Regions from separate parts of the Homo sapiens genome. Here region 2 is linked to region 1. The links come from fine-mapping of genetic effects on gene expression. Tissue or cell type: whole blood. Region 1 holds a variant in brackets; the other region holds the start of a gene. All regions are shown on one strand. Distances are from middle to middle.

Evidence for each region. PIP is the estimated chance that this variant, and not a neighbour inherited with it, causes the effect.
Region 2: NINJ1 starts here. The variant in region 1 is fine-mapped to the expression of NINJ1 in whole blood (INTERVAL, PIP above 0.99).

What each region holds. Positions count from the first base shown.
Region 1 is chr9:93,109,333-93,112,008 of GRCh38, reverse strand. CARD19 (caspase recruitment domain family member 19) reads right to left here. Exons shown (of 6, transcript NM_032310.5): 3 at 1,288-1,441; 4 at 71-130. Among named protein-coding and RNA genes, the nearest start is that of CARD19, 14 kb to the right of the region's middle. The variant G/A (reference allele first, on the strand shown) is at 1,406.
Region 2 is chr9:93,132,729-93,135,404 of GRCh38, reverse strand. NINJ1 (ninjurin 1) reads left to right here and starts at 1,154. Exons shown (of 4, transcript NM_004148.4): 1 at 1,154-1,262. The coding sequence starts at 1,188. It overlaps LOC124902212 (a long non-coding RNA gene), which reads right to left and starts at 2,393. Exons shown (of 3, transcript XR_007061665.1): 1 at 1,812-2,393. RefSeq lists enhancers at 1-440, 1,900-1,949 and silencers at 410-459, 960-1,189, 1,360-1,609.

The DNA.
Region 1 (2,676 bases):
GAGCCCTGGGGAGGGTAAAGAGAGAGGGAGAGAGAGGGAGAGAGAGGGAGGGGCAGCAGGGAGGTGTTACCCCTGTTACTCAGCTCGCCGCTCTGGCTGCCCGAGTCTAGCTCTGTGCAATCTGAGTTCTCTGGAAACAAAACCACAGAGCATAGTTAGTCAACGGGCAGGGCCGGAGGGCAAGGTAGTCACCCCGCAGGAAGCCCAAGGTTGCTGCTGCCTCCTGGGGCCGCCAGGCCGAACCAGGCTGTGGCACCTGAGGCTAGCCCTCCTCAGGGAACTATGCACAGTCTGGGTCTTCTCCTCTGCTCCAACTCCTGGACGGGCCTAAAGGCACCCGGGAGCCACAGAAGGTGCTCTACCTCCAGTGGGGCCAAGGCTTGGCCCTGCCTGGTTTTGAAAGCCCCCTGTGGCATACTCGTGGCTGGGGAGGGAGAGCCAGTCCCACCTGCAGGGCTGGGCCTCCCCTCGAGCTCTCCCCGCCCACCGTCTGCACTGTGTTCTGTGAGGCGTGGGGAGGCCTCCAGGGGGTCAGAGACCACAGCCCAGTAGCCTGGGACAAGCCGCCCAGTCCCTCTGGTCTCTGTCCTGTTGTCTAAGGGCCAAGGGGCAGTAGCCCCTCCTCCAGGGGCCCTGAGCACAGAGGCGTCAGATCAGAGTTGCCATCTTCAACTTGATATGCCCCCCACATCCCAGCAGCTCTGTGGGCCCAGGCTACTGGCATCCACATGACTCCCAGGGCCTGAGTCCACACTGCCTGAGGACAGGAGCCTCAAAACTGAAATGCACGTGCTTCGGACCAGCCATCCGTGCCTGACAATGTCCTATGGAAACACCCACACGTGTGCAGATCGCTGCAATGAAAGGGTCCGTCATGGGGTTGGGTAATTCCAGCTGGGACCGCCTAGGAGCGCCATGCAGCTGTGGGAACAAGGTTGCTGTCCACACAGACATGAAGGGATCCCCGTGGAATGAGGTTAGAAAAGGAAGGGCAAGAGTGGACGTATAAGATGCCCCATGCTGTGTGAAAACTGCCATGAGAGAGAGACGGAGGAAGGGGGAGAAAGTGGGAGACAGAGACCAACATCTGCACTGCCTGTGCCTGCCACACTCTCCCCTCGGGGCCAGAGGGTGGCCTCTGGGGAGGGGCTGAGGCGAGAGGGGATGCCAGGCCTGGGCTGCAGCAGACTTGGGTGGTCATGGAGGACATCCATGCCATCAACGGCAGGCTGGGGTGCCCTCCCCGGGCCAGCACCAAGCATGCATGGTTGGTGATGTGGAACTTACGCAGAGCGTGGCGGCTGGGCAGGCGGCTGTGCAGGGGCTGGGCATGGATATACAGGGCTCGGTAGAACTCCTGGCAGTCCCGCTCACCGCTCCGCTGCAGGTGGCTCAGGAGGTCACA[G/A]AGCCGCACACGCAAGGATGCCTTGGGGTTCCGGAACTGAGGGTACAAGGGGGTGCCAGGGAAGATCAGGCCAGGGGGGCTGGCTGTGGGTCAGGGCAGGGCACCAAGGTCAGGCCCCCAGCCTCAGCTTCCCTGTTGGGTGTCAGGACACCTGCTGGATGGCAGCTCCTGTGACAACCTGCCCCTTACCCACACCACATAGTGCCTGGCATTGCCTCTGTCACAGGCATCACTGCTACTCCTCATACTCCCTGTGGGGTGGGAGGTTGGGAAACAGGCTGGGAGTGGTCACAAAGAAAGCATGGGGCTGGCAAGGTGCGGTGGCTCATGCCTGTAATCCCAGCACTTTGGGAGGCTGAGGCAGGCAGATCACGAGGTCAGGAGATCGAGACCATCCTGGCTAATACGGTGAAACCCCCGACTCTATTAAAAATACAAAAAACTTAGCCGGGTGTGGTGGTGGGCACCTGTAGTCCCAGCTACTCGGGAGGCTGAGGCAGGAGAATGGTGTGAACCCGGGAGGCGGAGCTTGCAGTGAGCTAAGATCGTGCCACTGCACTCCAGCCTGGGCGACAGAGCAAGACTCCATCTCGAAAAAAAGAAAGCACAGGGCTGGTGACATCATTCCAAGTGTTGGGACATAGTGTGGCTTCCTGTGTGACCTTAGCCAGCTACTCCACCCCTCAGAGACTTGGTTTCTTCATTTGTAAAAAAGGGATAATGAACCCTCATGGTAGGCTGTGACAGGGAATTAATGAAGTGATGGTATAAGTGCTAACTTCTGTTATTTTTCAGTCTACAGAATGTGATTCAAGTTTTAAAAAAGTAAGTTGAAGCCAGGCACAATGGCTCATGCCTATAATCCCAGCACTTTGGGAGGCTGAGGCAGGCGGATCAGGAGTTCCAGGTCAGGAGTTTGACACCAGCCTGGCCAACACGGTGAAACCCCATCTCTACTAAAAGTACAAAAAATTGACTGGGCATGATGGTGCATGTTTAATCCCAGCTTCTTGGGAGGCTGAGGCCAGAGGATTGCTTGAAACTGGGAGGCAGAGGTTGCACTGAGCCGAGATCATGCCACTGCACTCCAGCCTGGGCGACAGAGACTCCATCTCAAAGAAAAAAAAAAAAAGACAGAAGTATTGGCTCTTTTGATGTGTATGACAGAGAAATGTGTGGTTCTCAAGGTCAGTGGACAGGCCACTGGGCCTTGACCTCCAGGACCTGGAGTCTGTGGCCTGGTGCTGCCACCTGGTGGCAGCATATCATTC
Region 2 (2,676 bases), 23 kb before region 1:
AGGACAACAGCAACCATCCCCGTCGTGGGCCACCGTGCCAGACCCTGTCCTGCAGATCCCCTCTGAGGCAGAGCTGGGGCAGTGACAGCCTGAGCCTCAGTTTCTCTGCTGTGAAGTGGGCCCACGACAGCTCCTCCTTCATGGGATGACCCCGTTTGGAGGATCAGGGCAAGCGCAATCCTGCTGCCCTGCCCATGCCCACTCACTCCTACCTCCTGTCCCGGTGGCAGCCTGACTGGACAGAGCCTGGGGTCTGAGCTGGCCTTCCTTCCACTGCCCTTCTGGAAATAGAGTGGCCATACTGCCGCAAGCTGACTATGCTGTGGTCAGGATGAACTCCCCTGGCCTCCCAGGGTGGCCGCCACATGCTCTCGACCCCCAGGCCCCCAGATGGGCAAAGTGCTGAGGAATGAACATATGGAGAAACAGAGACCAAACAACCACTTCAATCATACAACAGGTGGGGGCCCGCCTAGCATCTGGCCAGGGCTCTGGGCACTGTGCTGCCCCCAGCCCACCCCCTGCCACAGGTGGCACAGATGGGCCCATGAGTCAGCGCACGTTCATCCCCTTTGTGCCTCCCCCAGCCCCTCCAGCAGTCTGTGCCCTCATAACCCCCATTTCCCAGGCAGGAAAACCTAAGGTCAGGGAGTGGGAAGCCCTGTGTCAGCGTGGCCCGCAATCAGGGGAACCCCGGACTCTCTGACGCTGTTACTAGGGGCGCAGCAGGCGCTGTGCTGGAGCGATCTGCGGTTCCCAGGGCGAACCCCGCCTGGGAAAAACCCAGCGTGGGCGCCAGCGGCAACGCCCGCTCGCTTTCATGCAGTTTGCCTGGTGGCCAGGGAAAGGTCGTTCTTGGCCTCATTTTGTGGATTAAAAGTGTCCGCGACGGAGGTTCAGAGCAAGACGCAGCGCAGGGTCCTCTGGGGCCATCGGCGTCGCGCCCCCTCCCTTGTGGGGCCCCGCGGGACCGTCTCAGGCCCGAGGGGTTGGGGTCGCCCCAAACTGCGCGCTCTCAGCGTACAGCCTCCAGGCCCCGGGCCCGCCCCGGGTGGAGGCGGAGTCTGGGGCAGCAGCTCGCCGCCGGGCGGGCCGGGGGCGGGCCGGGGGCGGGCGCGCAGCTGGAGCCTGCGGCTGAGGCTCGGGCGCGCTCAGGCCCGGATCCTGGCGGCCTGGGCGGCCGCACCATGGACTCGGGAACCGAGGAGTACGAGCTCAACGGCGGCCTGCCTCCGGGCACACCCGGCTCCCCGGACGCCTCGGTAAGACCTTCCCCCCACCGCTGCATGATCTTGCCAGGCCCTGTCCTTTCGGGGCGCCGCGGCTCCCCGGGCACCTGTGTGCGCCGCGTCCGCACTGCAGAGTGTTGGGGGACGTCCCGCTCTAGGCCAAGTCCTTCCCGCCCCATCAGGGTCAGAACGATGCCCCCGGGAGCTCCAGCCACCCCCGGCAAGTGGGCGGGACGAGGGGGCGTGGGGGCGCAGGGCGGGCTGGCGTCCCCAGCCCCACTAAGCAGCGCCCGCGCTTGGCTGCACGGCGGAGGGGGCCTCGGCGCAGCTCCTCGGGCTAAGGACTGCCGGCGCCCGGCTTTCCCGACCTCCCCCCCACTCTCGCGCGGGCCTCTCTAACTTCAGCCTCGCCGTGCCGGCTCCTCCGCGCACTTTGCCCGGAGGCGGGCGGAGGGGAGTCACAGCCTCCGGGCTCCAGACCAGCTGCATGCAGACAGTTACGTCACCCCACGCTGACCACACAATCTGATGCGTGCCTTGATGGGGGAACTTGGGGCCCGCTGTGGTCCCTATTCCACTCACCTGCCTTGAGAAATAGAAACGTCACACAGCCTTCAGTGTATGCCGCCACCGGCCCTCCAGAACTTGCCCTGCCCGGCCTGGGAGGGCTGTGGGCAGGGGGCAGGCCCTGGTAGTGGTCCCGCTTCAGAATTCTTCATCCCAGGACTCAGCACTTACTGAGCACCTTGTGTTTGTTGCAAGGTCCTGGCATGGCCCTCTGGTGACTTGTTTACTTTGAACATTCTTTCCTTTTCTAACCCCCTCAGGGATGGGGGCAGGGAACAGCAGCCTGTTGGGTTTTTCCAGGCCTCTCCATGGCGTGGACCAGACTGGGGCAAAGACACTCTGCCCACTCGCTGGTGAACAGTCCTAGGCCGGTGCTGTGGGGACAGGACATGTTCGGGGAGGCGGGGCCCCATGAGCCACGGGATAGGATGGCCCTGGGGCTGCATGGACACTTGTTCCTAGGTTAGAGAGGAGCTGTCGCACTGCAGGACTTGACCGGTGTGCGGGACCCCAGCGACCTGGCCCTGCCCCAGTGTGTGAGCACTTTGGAGCAATAGGCAGGGGGCTCCTCCGGCTGTGTGTCCTTGGGAAGTTGCCACACCTCGCTGGGCCTTTTAGACATGGTCTTATAAAGAGAGAACAAAGGGTCTCTCCTGCCTTCAGGGAAGTGGGGAAAGCAAGTCAGGTAATAAACAGGTCAGTGGCTTGGAAGCGCCTTGGAAAGGAAGGGATACTGCTCCTCCCCCAACCCTGACCTTGCCCGGGCAATGCCCTCCACTCAGAGCAGTCTCTGCTCACTTCTGCGGGCGGCAGGATAGGCTGTGCCTCCTGAGATGGGTGCATCTCAAGCCCAGAGGAGATTGGGTTGGATTTGTTCCCG